Regions from separate parts of the Homo sapiens genome. Here region 2 is linked to region 1. A link means that fine-mapping ties the variant in region 1 to the expression of a gene that starts in the linked region. Tissue or cell type: whole blood. Region 1 holds a variant in brackets; the other region holds the start of a gene. All regions are shown on one strand. Distances are from middle to middle.

Region 1 (8,000 bases):
GGAGTGCAATGGCACAGTCTCAGCTCAAGGCAACCTCGGCCACCCGGGTTCAAGCAGTTCTCTTCTTGCCTCAGCCTCCCAAGTAGCTGGGATCGCCCGCCACCATGCCTGGCTAATTTTTTTATATTTTTAGTAGAGATGGGGTTTCACCATGTTGGCCAGGCTGGTCTTAAACTCCTGACCTCAGGTGATCCTCCCACCTCGACCTCCCAAAGTTCTGGGATTACAGGCATGAGCCACCATGCCTGGCCTTAATCATTGAATTTAGATGTTAGTCTCCTGGCATCTAAATCACTTTTTTTTTTTTTGTTTTTTTGAGACACGGTCTCACTCTGTCACCCAGACTAGAGTGCACTGGTGCGATTTTGGCTCACCACAACCTCTGCCTCCCAGGCTCAAGCAGTTCTCCTGCCTCAGCCTCCCGGGTAGCTGGGATTACAGGCACGTGCCACTACCACCTGGCTAATTTTTGTGTTTTCAGTAGAGATGAGGTTTCACCATGTGGGCCAGGCTGGTCTTGAACTCCTGACCTCAAATGATCCACCCGCCTTGGCTTCACAAAGTGCTGGGATTATAGGCGTGAGCCACTGCACCCAGCCACAAATATTTTTGATTATCTAATTCTCATCATAGGAAAACAGCGAATTTTTCTAGAGAGATTATTTTATATTGACCCTGAATTCCATAAGAAATATCATGTAAGTTTCTCATATCAGGAATATTGCATAAGAAAGAAAACTTTCTTTAGCTATAGCTTTGCAAAAGATACTGAAATTGTTTTGAAATAGTTGTTGACTTTTTTGTGTGTGGTAGAATATACATAACATAAAACTTAGCATTTTAACTATTAGTGTACAGTTCATTGGCATTAAGTACATTCATATTGTTGTACAATCATCACCACTGTCCATCTCCAGAACTTTTTCATCTTCTTAAACTGAAAATCTGTATCATTAAATATTTATCAATTTTTAAAAAGCCTAACATTAAATTCCGCCTCAATGAAGATTCTTCTTTGCAGAGCTGAGACTCTTTGTTTCAGGTTAAATAGTGTTTTGAAAATATAGGAAGGTACATCATGATACAAGGTTGGTGCTTAGAAAACCTAGAAGAATGGATCTTAAACCCATTAGGCTGCATGTCTGACATGAGATGTTTCAGGTGGATCATTCATTGGTGAGGGTCGGACTCTGCTTGCTTCATGGTTGAATTTCAACTATATCAAAATGGTGAATTATCTGAAATCTTGATTAAAGATTTGAACTCAGTTTTATATGTAGGTCTAAATTAACAAGACACATACTTAGTTATCCTTATTGTTGGAGAAGAGCAGAGACACTGTTTGAAAATCTGTCATCCCAAATGCATTTTATAAAATTCCAGTTTTTATTGCTTCTTATATTTTTCTTGCATAAGTTTTGCTTAGTTTAGACTAACAATTAGAGATGATCAGAGAGACCTTAGAAATATGTTGGGTCACAGAATTAAAGTCTTACATTCAGTGGTTGAGGAATAACAATTATAGCACAGCTTCACACTGAAAAATAGAGAGTTGGAGGATGGTGACTAAAAAATTACTAGAGTTTTGTGTTAAGGTTTTTACTGCGTAGAGTGAAGTATGAACTTTCTGGTATTTAGATTGATTTAGAAAGTACATTAATTATTTTTAAAAGGAGTTAAAATAATTGTATAAAGCATTTATTGAGCATTTAGGGAAGTTCATGCAAGGCAGAATATGATTTGTTCTTCATGAGAGATAACAGTTTTGCTGTATGTATTTCTGTTAATTTGTACGTGTGTATGTGTGTGTTCCCTCATAAGGGGTACGGTTATGGGTGTTTATATACCCCATAAAGTAGCATAAAAAATATTAACAGAAACAAAAATAAATGAATGAATGGTTTAACTCACTGTTTTACTCTATCTTTACTTCTTGTCCTTATCTATATATAATACTTTTATTAAAACAAGTATTCTTTTTTAGGAAAATTAAGCAGTCAGTCTGTGACTATAATTATGTGTATTCATGACAAGTTCAGATTGAAATTCTGTTGGTTTTTGTTGTTGTTATGATATTCAAGAGATGTGGTCTGAAGCTATTAAAATCCTGAAAGGGGAGTATGCTGTCCGGGCAATCAAGGAACATAAGATGGATCAAGCAATTATCTTCTGTAGAACCAAAATTGACTGTGATAACTTGGAGCAGTACTTTATACAACAAGGAGGAGGTAATTTTTTCTCACTTGAAATAAATTGTGTTTATATCCTCTTGTAATAGATTATTAATCTCATGTTGATGCAATCTAGAACACATGCACAGAATTTAAAGCAGTTGATGGCATATTTTAAGTATCTATGCTTATTCAGTACTTTTCCATATGATAAGCCCTAGGAAAAACAAGAGAGAATTTTCCACGTAGGTACATTTTCATTACAGTAAACTTGAATCACAGCATCCTAAGAGTTTTATATTATATGGAAGAAGGATAAAGTAATTTATTAGTCTTAAAATTTAAAATATGATCACTGAAATAATAGAATGTATGTCTTTTAAACCAGTAGATGGGGAAAGGGGAATGAGGAAAAAAAACCTAAACAAGAGCAAGAAAGGAAGGGGAATAAAATGAGAAAAATTATGGTTAGAAATTATAGAATAAGATCAATGTTGGAAAAATCTGAATGTATGAGTAAACACTGTAAGTATCAGTGGACACGGTCTTCTGTTATAAAGCATGGATTGTTGGACTGGATGAAATCTAGCAATACGCTGTTTACATGGAGCATACCCAAAATCTGAGGACATAGAAAGATGGAAAAGGAATGAAAAAATATTATGCATGTGTCAGCTAAAATATTAACCAAAAGAAAGCCAGTCTAGCTATATTAATAAGAGTTGCAGTAGACTTTAAGACAAATATTACTAGAAATAAAGAGTCACTATGTAATAAAATATCCAAGCTACAATGGAAGTATAAGGGTTCAGATTTTATGCTTCTTATAACTTCGAGAATGTAAACTGTATTAGTCTGTTCTTATGCTGCTATGAAGAACTGCCTGAGGCTGGGTAATTTATAAAGGAAAGAGGTTTAATTGACTCACAGTTCTTCAGAGCTGGGGAAGCAAACACGTCCTTCTTTACATGGCAGCAGGAAGGAGAAGTGCCAAGCAAAGTAGGAAAAGCCCCTTATAAAACCATCAGATCTCATGAGGACTCC[G/A]TCACTATCACGAGAACAGCATGAGGATAACCACCCACATGATTCTATTATCTCCTACCAGGTCCCTCCCACATGTGGGGATTATGGGAACTACAATTCAAGATGAGATTTGGATGGAGACCCAGCCAAATTATATCATAAACCAACATGGAAAAATTCTCAATCAGTTGTTATGGAAATGCAAAATAAAATGACAGTATAATACCGTTGTACATGCTAAACTAAAAATACAACACCGAATTTTGGCTGTGGAGCAACTGCATACAGTTGTTGAGAATAGATTGTTGGTGAGAATATAAAATGGTATGAGCACTTTAGCAAAGGGTCTTGCAGTCTTTTATAAAGCTAAAAATGCTGTCTTATGGCCTAGCAATTAAACTGCTAGATGTTTACCCAGGATAAATGAAAACACATATTGACAAAAAGATGCTAGAATGGCCATAGCAGCTTTATTTATAATATTCTAAAACTGAAAACACACTAAGTGTCCATCAGTAGGAGAATGGATAAATAAAGTGTGAAATACAGTGGAATACTACTCAGCAGTGAAAAGGAACAGACTTTTCCTTGCTGAGTAAACACAGCAATGATGGATGAATCTCAGAAACCTTATGCCAAATGAAAGAATTCTTACTCAAGAATATACACTGTATCAATCTATTTATATGACATTTTTAAAAAGTCAGAACTAATCTGTGATGGAAAAAATGTCAGAACAGTAGTAGTCCCCACAAGGGTGGCAGTAGGGATAGGCTGGGAAAGGATATGAGGGTATTTTTTGGTGTGATAATGATGTTCTGTATCCTAATGGGACTTTCTCAGCAAATCTACTTAAGATTTGTAGATTTCTTGAATACAACTTTTACCTCAAAAGAAAAAACTAAACAAATATTGAATTCTAGTTAATTATATGCATGCCGAACTCTGTACTGATGTCTGCAATTTACATTGAAATGTACAAAAATATGAAGATGAGTTGATGGATGGATACAGGTATAGGTAGATATGTGGTTAAAGCAAGTATAATAAAATGTTAATTGTTGAATCTAGGTGGTGGATATACAACTGTTCATCCTTAAAATTATTTCAGTGTTGCTACGTGTTTGAAAATATAAATATTGGAAAAATATAAAAAGTAAAAATTGGCAGATATAGAAGGTAACATACAAATCCCATTATTGTACTGAGGAAAGACTAACACATTTTGTTATAACTGATGTACGTCAAGGAAATAGAAAACTCAAGAAGGATATAGAATATTTGAACTAATGGTCATATAAAGAATACATTACACTGTTCATTACAGTGAGTGCTTAAGTAACACATTTTTTTTTTCAAGTCCTGGCAAACAGACTTGCTTGGTTGTTATAGTGACTGTTTTGTAGTACTTAATTTTCTTCCTGTCTATGTTTTGAATGGAGGAGTTGATTATGTAGTAAGGAGTACTGTTGATTAAGTAGTAATATCCCTTTAGTTACTTTGATGCTCCTTCCCTAAATATTCTGGATGTAGATGTTACTTCTGCCTAGAAAACAAGTTTATTACACCATTACTAACACTCAAACACAATATATACCAGATTACAGGGGTTTAAAAGAAGGGATCAAAGGATCCCTCTCCCCTCCACACATACCCTAACCAGAGAGTTATAGTGTGTATTTGATACTTCCCTAAACCACTTGAATGCAGGATGCAATAAAATCTCAGCTGTATACCTCTAGAAGTTCTGGTTAGCTGTTATTTCACCTCTGCATAATTAATTTTTGTGTTATTCATTTTGAATAGATATCTGTCAAAATGTATTGTTTCCTTGAATTTTCAAGTATACTTACTGAACTTAATTTACCTTGGAGAATAGTTAAGTGCCATAATTGTTATTTTGTTACATCCCAGTGGTTACTCTTTTTGTTACTGTGTCTACTTGAAGAGTTTTCTTTTGGGGGGTTGGCTACCACTGCACTTGCCTCTAAAATAACACCTCTCCATCTTTACAGTTTGCTGCTTTGAATCTTCTGTGGCCATGAAACTAGATAACTATGTTGCTTAAAATACCTTGAGAAGAGAGCAGGCTTATGGGCATGGCCTTTTAGGAAGCACATTAACTTGATGATGCTTAATTTTGGTTCCTCCAAGAATGATCTCTTTTGCCTACTTTTTGAGTCTTAGCTTTATGGAGGATAGTGAGGTTCCTGGTGTACACATAGGCATTTTAGTTGGTACACTGCTTGATCCACTCCTCCTACAGATTGGGAAGGGTGACTTAAAATGCCCTTAAAAGCAGGACAACTTTAATGCTCCGTAGAGTTCATTTTAATGGTACTTCGTTTGTGACATAAATTGTGTTAACCATGGTTTATAGCAAGTTGGGGCATAGATTTTTATGGAATTGTGTGGCACTATTGTAGTCTGAATTTTATTGGCTTTTTTACATAGTCTTAGGCAGAAGATTTTCCAAGGTTAAATGCTTAATGTGCTTTTCACTAGGACCTGATAAAAAAGGACACCAGTTCTCATGTGTTTGTCTTCATGGTGACAGAAAGCCTCATGAGAGAAAGCAAAACTTGGAAAGATTTAAGGTACTGATACATAGTTGATTGTTTCCTTAATACTTAAGAGGGGCATTATATCTAGTTTTAAGCAGTTTTAATTAATATTATTAAAGCAATTATTGTCCTAGAAATTTCAAAATGTTTCTACCCTAACTAATGTGTCATCATCATGACAGGAATTAGTCATTGTTGACACTCAAATGGTAAATTATACATTCTCTATCAGCATAACACTACTATAACAGGAATTTTCAATTTCAGAAATTTTAGTTAAATTATTTCAGGTAGATATTTTTAGGAGAAGTATCATTGGATAGTTAAGCCATGTCTATGTGCCTTAAAAACAGTCTCCAGCAATAGCCATAAGGAACTTAATTTGTAGATTAATTAAGACAGGTATCAGAATATGGCTATGTAGAATTAAAGGTATTTTGATACTGTTTGGGGCAGACCTTTCCAGTTATATGCTTGCAGCACATGAACGGGTCATATAGCTCTTGGTGTAAGTGGGTGGGTAAGTAAATGGCTTGAGCCATTTAGAACTAAAGATCGGTAACCTGTCTACCTGCAAGCAGTCTCATTAATTTAATAGGCCCCAGTGTATAGCATAAGTATCATTTTCTAAGAAAAAAGATGGGAAGTATTGGGTTGAAGAACTTTGGCTTACGTTTCCATGCTGGGCATAATTGATGCAGATGTGAAAACACATCGCATGGCCTCGTTTGAATGTGTGCTACCCTTCTCAACCGTAGGCATTTTTCTGGACCATAAGTCAGTATACCCTTCTTCCCTCCCCCAGATCTCTAATTTTGCTGTGCCTTGAGGCACAAATGACATTGAAAGGCTAATTTGTATTTCTTGGTGAGCACCAGGGGCCTACCCTCATTTTCCTCCCCTTGAGAATTTTGTCTGTTACAAAAAATGTAGCCTCCAGGTAAAATATCTAGTATTCTGAGTTTATTTGAATTTAAGAGTAAAGATAATGCTTATGTCTGTACATTGTATTCTGTTTTGTCTTTCTCTTCAATTTCTAAAGATATTTATAAAGATTAAGCCAAGTTTTAGCAATAGTTTAATATCTTTGAGTAGAAAAAGAAAAGCAAAAATGAACCCAATCTCTGATTTAATCACCTTAAATGTCATGTTTCAGCAGATCATGACATAAAACTTCAAGACTTGGTCCAGTAAATTAGGAGTATGTCGACCTCTAATCTGATAGTAACACTTGAGTTTTTAGAGGTCTCATTTAGTGGAAGGATAGCATTTGTTTTTATTGTTTAGTATATGTGCTAACAAACTCCTTTCTCTCTTCACTGTTCTCTTTAGAAAGGAGATGTAAGATTCTTGATTTGCACAGATGTAGCTGCTAGAGGAATTGATATCCACGGTGTTCCTTATGGTAAAAAGCAACTTTTTATGCCTGTAGTGTGATTGTTACGGAATCTAAAGTAAAGCCTTCTAATATGTTTGAAAAATTTAGAAACTACTGGCAATTGTTAATAATGGTTTTTATTTATAGTTATAAATGTCACTCTGCCCGATGAAAAGCAAAACTACGTACATCGAATTGGCAGAGTAGGAAGAGCTGAAAGGTACTTCTGCAATTTTTTTTCCCCCATTTTTAAGCTTGTATGCTTTAGGAATAAAGTCTAATAGAAGGCTTTTAACCATCTTTCAGGATGGGTCTGGCAATTTCCCTGGTGGCAACAGAAAAAGAAAAGGTAATCTTTGTAGGGCTCTATTATATTCATTGTGTGTGTTGTGATTTTAGATGTTGGAAATAAAAGCAGTTTGATTTTCCCATTTAAATTTAATTCAGCTGCGTATGGAATACAAATGAACTTTTTAATGTCATCTTTTTTCCTATATTCATTGAATGGACAAATAATAGGGTGAAATTTAGAAAGGAAAAATGCAAAATATAATTTTTCCAACTAGCTTTATTGTACTCATTTCCACCAAAAAATATTTAAACATTTTCTGGCATGGTGCCATGGAAGACCTTTCATGGTGAGGGGAGATTTATTTTGATATAATTACAAATTTATAGAAAAGTTGTATTCATAAAGAGCTCCCATATACTCATTGCCAAATTCAGTAGTTGTACATTTTGCATTATTTGCTTTATTATTCTCTTATACAAAAGATTTGAACTTATTTTTCTTTTGAACTTTTTTATGTTAATATTGACATAGTATGCTTCAATATTTACTTTTTCATCCTACTTTTATCTGAG
Region 2 (8,179 bases), 34 kb before region 1:
CATTCTCAGGTATTTTGCTATAGCAGCACAAATGAGCTAACCTAGGAACTGTGTATGGCTTTTGGGTGGTCCATCTACAGAGGCCTTCCCAGGACCCATCCTCTCTACACTTTCCCAGATACCTGAAGGCATTTTTTTTCAGGTCTGCCTTAGTAGTTGCAAAACCATTTGCTCTACAGTGGGATATAATTATAATATAGCTTACTTGAAAATACATAGCATAATATCTTGGGCCCATGGATAACATAGTAAAACTTCCCTATCACATGATTAGTGGGGCCCAAACTACCCAATTACAGAAAATGTGGGGTTATTCTGAGGTTAAAAAAAAAATACTGGGGGCAAGCCCAGGCTGAGGGGTGTGTGTGTGTGTGTTTGAGACAGAGTCTTGCTCTGTCGCCTAGGCTGGAGTGCAGTGGCATGATCTCGGCTCACTTCAACCTCCGCCTCCTGGGTTCAAGTGATTCTCCTGCCTCAGCCTCCCAAGTAGCTGGGATTACAGGCGCCCGCCACCAAGCACGGCTAATTTTTTGTATTTTTAGTAGAGACAGGGTTTCACCATGTTGGCCAGGCTGGTCTTGAACTCCTGACCTCAGGTAATCCACCCACCTCGGTCTCCCAAAGTGCTGGGATTACAGGCATGAGACACCACGCTCAGCCATATGTGTTTTTTAATTATAATTTTTTAAACAGCTTTATTAAGGTATAATTTAAATACCATAAAATTCACTAATGTACAATTCAATGATTCACAGAGCTGTGCAACCAGCACCACAATCCAGTTGTTGAAGACTTCCATCACCCGCCTTAAATGTCGCACGTCCATTTGTATAAATGGAGACAGATGAACAAAAGCCTACGCTGGGAGTTTTTAGGGTCCAGTCCAATCTCTTCTCAGTTTGGCTACAGTTTGGTGCCACCTGGTGGTGTCTGTCCTGGTTTCTGGGACCAGGCCAGGGTTTCTAGGAATCTCCCAGTTAGTAGGCAACCATTAAATCAACCTATTCTTGGGGAGACTAGACCAGCAAAATACCAGACTGAAAGGCACCCATCCTCTATCTTTTGGTTTGGTGAAGGGCCTGGCTGCTGTTTCTCTGCCTGGTGTTATTCTACCTGCCAAGGAGAGGAGCCAATCATACCCCAATTCACATATCCCAATTTGCATTACTGAGGGCACTGCAACACATACATACAAATATCTATAATTATTAAAGCAGTATATTAAGTGAGCTGAACTTGATAAGGCACAAACAGAAAACATTATCTGTTACCTTGAAATCATCTCTATGGGTTATTTCTTTCCCTGACCTAGATGAAGTCTCTGGCATCTTCCAGAGCTTTTCTGGTCACTCTGAGACAATGAAGAGTTGTCTGGTTACTTTCATCTAATTATACCCTCGTTTCTGTAAACTATCATGTCCAGGATCGTGATTGAAATTCACAACTTCAACCAACATCATGGCTTCCTCCTCTTCCTGCTTGGCCTATTCCACGCCAGAAGCCTGCAGTGGGATGGAGGATGGGGTCAGTCTCTTTTCTGTACTCGCCTCTCCCATTAGCTGTTGTTTCTGACTCCTGGGAAGGATAAAGTCTAGGGGATGGGGTGGCGGGTGGGTACACACCTTTATCTGGCTGGGTTTATGGTGATCTGATTCTGGTGCTTTCTGGCTTAGACATGCTCAAGGCTGATTGTTTCTCTTAGAGGGAACTTTTTGTGGTATCTTGGAGATTCTCCTTGCTGGCATCCTCCACATGCAACTCCCATGAGACAAGAGATATCTCTTCTCCAGTTTGGAAGGTAAGGATGCCACTGCGTTCTTTGGGGGGTCTGTGTGCTGAATCATTTAGCTCCTCCGGGAAGTCTCTTGGGCACATTCCCTTTGAAGAAAACTTCCAGTCCACTCTCCACAGATCTATTTATCCCTTGGGGAAAAAATGTCACACGATTCCCCCACAGTTAACTCCTGCAGCAGGCTTCTCTCTCCTTCTCTCTGTCTCTTTTTCTGCCCTGCCACCTCAGGTCCTCCTAGGGACGGCTTCTCAGAGCAGTCCTTACGCTTCCCAAACTCTCAGATCAAAAGTTCTCAGAGTATTTCCCTGAAATGCATTCTTTTCACAGAAATCTTTTCTCTTAATTTGCATCTTTAATTTTTTCATACTTTATCTCTTCCTTGAGACAGGGTCTTGCTCTGCCACCCAGGCTGGAGTACAGTGACACCATCATAGCTCACTGCAGCCTCCACCTCCTAGGCTCAAGAGATCCTCCCACCTCAGCCTCCCAAGTAGCTGAGACTACAGGTGTGCACCATGCCCAACTATTTTTTAATTTTTTTTGGAGATGGGGGTCTCATTATGTTGCCCAGGCTGGTCTTGAACTTCTGGGCTCAAGTGATCCCCTTGCCTCAGCCTCCCAAGGTGTTGGGATTATAGACATGAGCCATCATGCCCAGCCGATTTTTCACACTTTAAAGGTGGGCATTGGCAAAAGGCACAAAAATTAGATTTCAGATTTCCCTTTGGCAAGTCCTGCATAATATGGGTCTTGTATCTCTCCTTGGAATGTGGGGGTACTTGGTATCCATTCAAAACTGGTACACTGCATAACTCTCAGGGTCTTATTTAGACAAAATATAACAAGAATAGAGAATATAATGTGAATAGTGCCCCCTGGAAGTGTAAAGCTGCAGGGCTGAGTGTATTGTCCTGGGCCTTTGGAGCTTCAGGTGAATCCTGTTACATGTAATAGTAATAACAGAGCTAGTTATATTGTCACCATGTGCTATGCACTATTTTAGATGCTTTATGTATTTTATTTGATCCTCATAACTATCATATGAGAAAGGTACTATTGTTCATCCCTATTTCACAGGTAAGTAAACTGAAGCCCAAAGAAGCTTCATGACTTGTTCAAGGTCACACAGCAAGCAAGTGGCAGACCTAGAATCCAAACTCAGAATATGGTTCCCAACTCTGTACTTCTAACCCTATTCTATCTTTTTTATTTTTTATTTTTTTGAGACAGACTCTCCCTCTGTCGCCCAGGCTAGAGTGTAGTGGCACGATCTCAGCTCACTGCAGCTTTCGCCTCCCAGGTTCATGTGATTCTCATGCCTCAGCCTCCGGAGTAGCTGCAACCCTATTCTTTTTTCTTTTTTTTTTTTTTTGAGACGGAGTCTCGCTCGGTCACCCAGGCTGGAGTGCAGTGGCGCGATCTCGGCTCACTGCAACCTTCGCCTCCTGGGTTCAAGCGATTCTCCTGCCTCAGCCTCCCGAGTAGCTGGGACTACAGGCATGCACCACCACACCCGGCTTCTTCTGTGTGTGTGTGTGTGTGTGTGTGTGTGTGTATTTTTTGTAGAGAAGGGGTTTCACCGTGTTAGCTAGGATGGTCTCGACCTCCTGACTTCGTGATCCGCCTGCCTCGGCCTCCCAAAGTGCTGGGATTACAGGCGTGAGCCCCCGCGCCCGGCCGCTGCAACCCTATTCTATCTTGCCTGAGGGTTCCACTTTTCTCCATGACACTCTGGGGCAGGCTACAGATAGCACAGCACGCGCCCTCGCATTGCGCAGATGTGGCTCAGATCCCACGCTGCCATTCGGTAGATATGTGTCTTTAGATAAGTGACTTAACTTTCCCGAATTTTAGAGTCCTCATCTAAAGATTCTAATACCTTCCTGACAGAGTGAGTGTCTGGTTGGGAGGATTCCTCATTTACTTTCCCCATCTCTCTGCAAAGAGAAAGGAGTTAAAATTGCATGGAAGTCAAACCCGAAATTATAAAAGCGACATCAAACATGGGTGAAGGGAGGGAGACCTAAATCATTACTTAGTTTAAAAAAAAAATGTAACAAATACCTACTGGCTGCCAGGCACTCACTGGCATTGGTGCTCAGGGCAATGAATCCAGTCCATCTCTCCGGGTCATTCACACACCAAGGCCCTGCTCACCTTTGGAAAGCTGGGGGACTGAGTGGGGAGGGCACGGTGTGGTGTCAGCCTGAGCCCACTGGATGACCCTAATCACCAAACATCTGCTTCCTTCTCTGTAGCTGTGACCCTGATACCGCGTGGTGTGCTCCGAACACATGGTGCCCAGAACGAAGGCGGCGTCCAGAAGCCCTAGGTCCCAGAGGTCCGCTCAGCGGCAGGCGCATAAGGCGGGGCCGGCGCGGGCCTTTCCTTCCATCGGAACCGTTCTCCCGGGGCTGAGTCCCTGCCCGGACTCCGAACGCCGAAGACCAGGGGCCGGAAGCGCGCGCCGCCACTGCCACGCCGTGTCAGTCGGGAGGGAGGGAGCGAGCAGGCGAAGCCGCGGAGGACGGGGTGAAGATGGCGGCCTTCTCCGGTGCGTTTGTGGAAACTCTGGGGGTGGTGGGGCGGCTTGTTGCACGCCTCAGCCCTGGGGCCGCCCGCGGAGAGCTAAAGGGGCGGGAGCGGACAGGGGTCAGGGAGACAGAAGGGCGCTGTCCGCTGCAGTCCCTGATGGACCCGCGTTGCGGGATCAGGGGCGGCCGCGGCTCGGGTTCGGAGGACGATTCTTCCCAGGAGCGGGCCGGAACGTCCCTCCCCCTGCCCTTTCCCTTCTACCAGTCTCCACTTGGCTTTCCTGCCAGTGCACCTTCGGCTGCAAAATCTAGGCGGCGGCGTTGCTCTGGCGGCTCCCAGACGCCTGGGCCTCCTGCCTCTTAACGTGGCAGTGACCCTTTGGGAACCCTTTTCTGCCCGCGGCTCATCTGGGCTTGGCCAGGCAGAGAGGCGAGACGGCGTGGGGAGGAGTCATTGGGGAAAAATGACGATCCTGCCTCTGTCCAGTTTTTTCAGGCCCTTCCAAAACGTCCCAGGCATAAACCTGATCTTTATTTGTTCTTAAACGTTGTTATATCAACATTAATGTTCAGTGTTGAAGCTAAAGGGAAAGCATTTTCATTAACGTACGCACCAGTCCAACATAAGTTTGGAAAATTCATATTTATTTGCCGTCTGCTACCCTCCTTTATTCCAAATATGATTTGATATGGCTTATCGAACCCTACAGTTGATATTTTCGCCTCTTGCTTTATCATCCTCCTGTTAGGCATCCAGTTTTAGGAAGCTGTAATCAGCCTTAAATGCGCTAAACGTGATACATTTATGTAGCACTTATGTAACGTTTATTGCTATATAAATGTATCACGTTAGGCCTAATGTCCTTTAATGTTATTAACTTTTTAAGATGACTTCAGATGTAGTATTTTATATTTTTTAGTTTTCTTCTGTAAGAATATTAGGAATTCCATATCTCCAGTCATGTAAGATATTTTTTTTCTTTTTTGGGGGGGAGAATGGGGGGGTGGGGGGATGTAGTCTCCTTCTGTCGCCCCAGCTGGAGTGCAATGGTGTGATCTTGGCTCACTGCAGCCTCCACCTCCCAGGTTCAAGCAATTCTCCTGCCTCAGCCTCCTGAGTAGCTGGGATTACAGGCGCCTACCACCATGCCCTGCTCATTTTTGTATTATTAGTAGAGACGGGGGTTTCACCATGTTGGCCAGGCTGGTCTCGAACTCCTGACCTCAGGTGATCCGCTCACCTCGGCTTCCCAAAGTGCAACAGTCATGTAAGATTTCTGACTGTTTCAGTTACATCTTCTAATAGGATTCAATTGGAAACTGCTCAGAGTTGTTGCTGTTTTTCTTTTCCCAACATTCTCCTAAAACGATTTTAGAGCCAAGGTCTGTAGGATAGTTCTAGGTAGTCATTTTATAGGTTCACATCTTTGGGAGTCATACACAAATTTCATGAATGTTAGAGGTAAAGGACTGGAAAAAGTCTGTGATATGAAATAAGACAAAACTGGAATTTCACGAATGTTTCTAATTTTTCCTTAACTGTTAAAAGTATTATACTTAAGGTCCGCTTTCAAAGAAAACTTGCAGGGAACATGACCAGAATGGTACAAGAGATTGTCTGGAATTTACTGAAAATGATATGTTGTTTCTTGTATAACAATTTTGCAAAGAGCTTCAGCTTGCAGTATTCCGTATGCAGTAAGAACACACCACTCCTTTGTTTCAAGCAGTTTGCATTTTAGGAGAGAGAACATAGACTGTAATACAGGTTAATTCTTAGGAAGGTCTGCCTGGATATTCAACTTTAGATCTTCATTAGTTTATCTGTGGCTTTTTTTTTTCCTGAGATTAAGAGCTAGGAAAGTCGCCAGGTGCAGTGGCTTATGCCTGTAATCCCAGCACTTTGGGAGTCCAAGGTGGGCAGATCACGAGGTCAGGAGATTGAGACCATCCTGGCTAACACAGTGAAACCCCGTCTCTACTAAAAATATGAAAAAAAATTAGCGGGCGTGGTGGCATGCGCCTGTAGCCCCAGCTCCTCGGGAGGCTGAGGCAGGAGAATTGCTTGAATCTGGGAGACGGAGTTTGCAGTGAGTGGAGATCATGCCCCTACACTCCAGCCTGGGTGACAGAGTGAGACTGTCTCAAAAAAAAACAAAAGAAAAGAAAAAAAAGAAAAAGAGTTAGGAGAGCCTTCTTTGAAAATGATGATCCTTCTCATCTGATGCAAAGAAAAAGCTACATAATTTTATGAAGAATATTTTCAGTTTGTATGTTTGCTTTATGCCTTTTCACAATGGCAAGAAATACAGAATTTCAGAATTGGTTATTTCTGGGGCTTGGGAATGTTTGATTCTTGTTCTTTTTTTTATAGGAATATATATTTTTATGATAAAGCTATATTTTATAAATACAGACTTAAAATAAAAATCACTTGTCTTTTGGAAGGAAAGTTTAAGTAATCCAACTAACTACTCCATATATAATTACCCTCTACAGTTCATATGAGAAATGATAAAATGACAAAACCCGGTTAGGAGCAACTCATCTCTATTCATTTAGGATGGGCCTTGAAGTAGAATTATTGAGATATGTATACAGTTAAGAACTCAGCAGTTCTTCAGCTGACATTTCCAGGTGCCCACGTTTTCACCACTGACCCCTCCCTCTTCAGTTATTCAGAATTTTGATTATGGCTGCCAATAAATGTGGGTGCTCGCCACTTGTCTATTCATTTTTTTCCAATTGCTGAGGGTATTCACATGGTCCTAGAATAGCCAAGGCACATAACTGCCACATTGTCTCTAAATGCAACAACCCTGTCTATTCTTGGCAGACTTTTCACGAGTCATGAGAGGTAAACAGGCACTGTAGTGGCTACAGTTTATTAGGTGACAACCATGCTCCAGTTGCATTACATGATTATCTCTGGTCTTCATATAGCCCTGCAAGGTAGGCAATATCAGCCCCATTTTGTGTGGAGAAAACAGATTTATAGCTTTGCCTAAGGTCACTTGCTAATAAGTGAGAACTTAGATTTGAACTCAGGTCTTTCTCCAGAACTTGTGCTCTTTCAACAGTGCCACGCTCAGTAGATTTGATGTAACTGAGCTATCCTTCAAAATCTTTACCCTGTTTTATGAATAGTAATTTTGAGAGCAATGCAATTTATCATTTCAGTTTATGTGGTTTTTAAAATTAATTTTTACTTTCAGAGATGGGTGTAATGCCTGAGATTGCACAAGCTGTGGAAGAGATGGATTGGCTGTAAGTACATAAAGCCTAAATGTACCTGGGAGAGGATGTTTTATAATTTAAACAGTTGTTAGTGATTTTATCAAATATTTTTGTGTCTAGTTGGGTAAGTGAAAATCAGGTTTTTTTTGTGATTTTCTAAATTATGGAAAGTTTCCTTTTTTTAACCTTGACATATTTCTAGTGGAATAAGATGGATCGTATTTACCACGTAAAATTTTCTTTTAGGCAAATTAACGTGACTTAATTTGCTTAGGCGATTTTTTTCCCCAGTAACTAAAATTCTTCAAATATGATTCTTTTAGCCTCCCAACTGATATCCAGGCTGAATCTATCCCATTGATCTTAGGAGGAGGTGATGTACTTATGGTAAGTTTAAATTTGGTGAGGTGATTGGTAGCTGGGGACACACTCTAAGAATTGCATAGGCTTACAAATGCTACTTTACCTTTATTCACAAACATTTATGATACATATACTGTATTCAGACTATTAGGTAAAAGCTTCAAACAGGTAAGTATTTACTCCTGAGAAGCTTAAACCCACTAGGGCAATAAGACATGTATAAGAATGAATCTCGTATCAGAGAGAATGTGGC

The links. PIP is the estimated chance that this variant, and not a neighbour inherited with it, causes the effect.
Region 2: it holds the start of DDX1, and the variant in region 1 is fine-mapped to the expression of DDX1 in whole blood (TOPMed, PIP above 0.99). The same link has a PIP of 0.9 or more in aorta, blood mononuclear cells, lung and monocytes.

Annotation. Positions count from the first base shown.
Region 1 is chr2:15,621,355-15,629,354 of GRCh38, forward strand. It overlaps DDX1 (DEAD-box helicase 1), which reads left to right. Exons shown (of 26, transcript NM_004939.3): 19 at 2,082-2,228; 20 at 5,700-5,791; 21 at 7,091-7,163; 22 at 7,284-7,356; 23 at 7,443-7,485. Among named protein-coding and RNA genes, the nearest start is that of DDX1, 33 kb to the left of the region's middle. The variant G/A (reference allele first, on the strand shown) is at 3,216.
Region 2 is chr2:15,587,604-15,595,782 of GRCh38, forward strand. DDX1 (DEAD-box helicase 1) reads left to right here and starts at 4,265. Exons shown (of 26, transcript NM_004939.3): 1 at 4,265-4,346; 2 at 7,542-7,593; 3 at 7,887-7,950. The coding sequence starts at 4,331. It overlaps LOC124905975 (a long non-coding RNA gene), which reads right to left and starts at 4,166. Exons shown (of 2, transcript XR_007086224.1): 1 at 3,857-4,166; 2 at 666-3,729. RefSeq lists an enhancer at 4,304-4,363.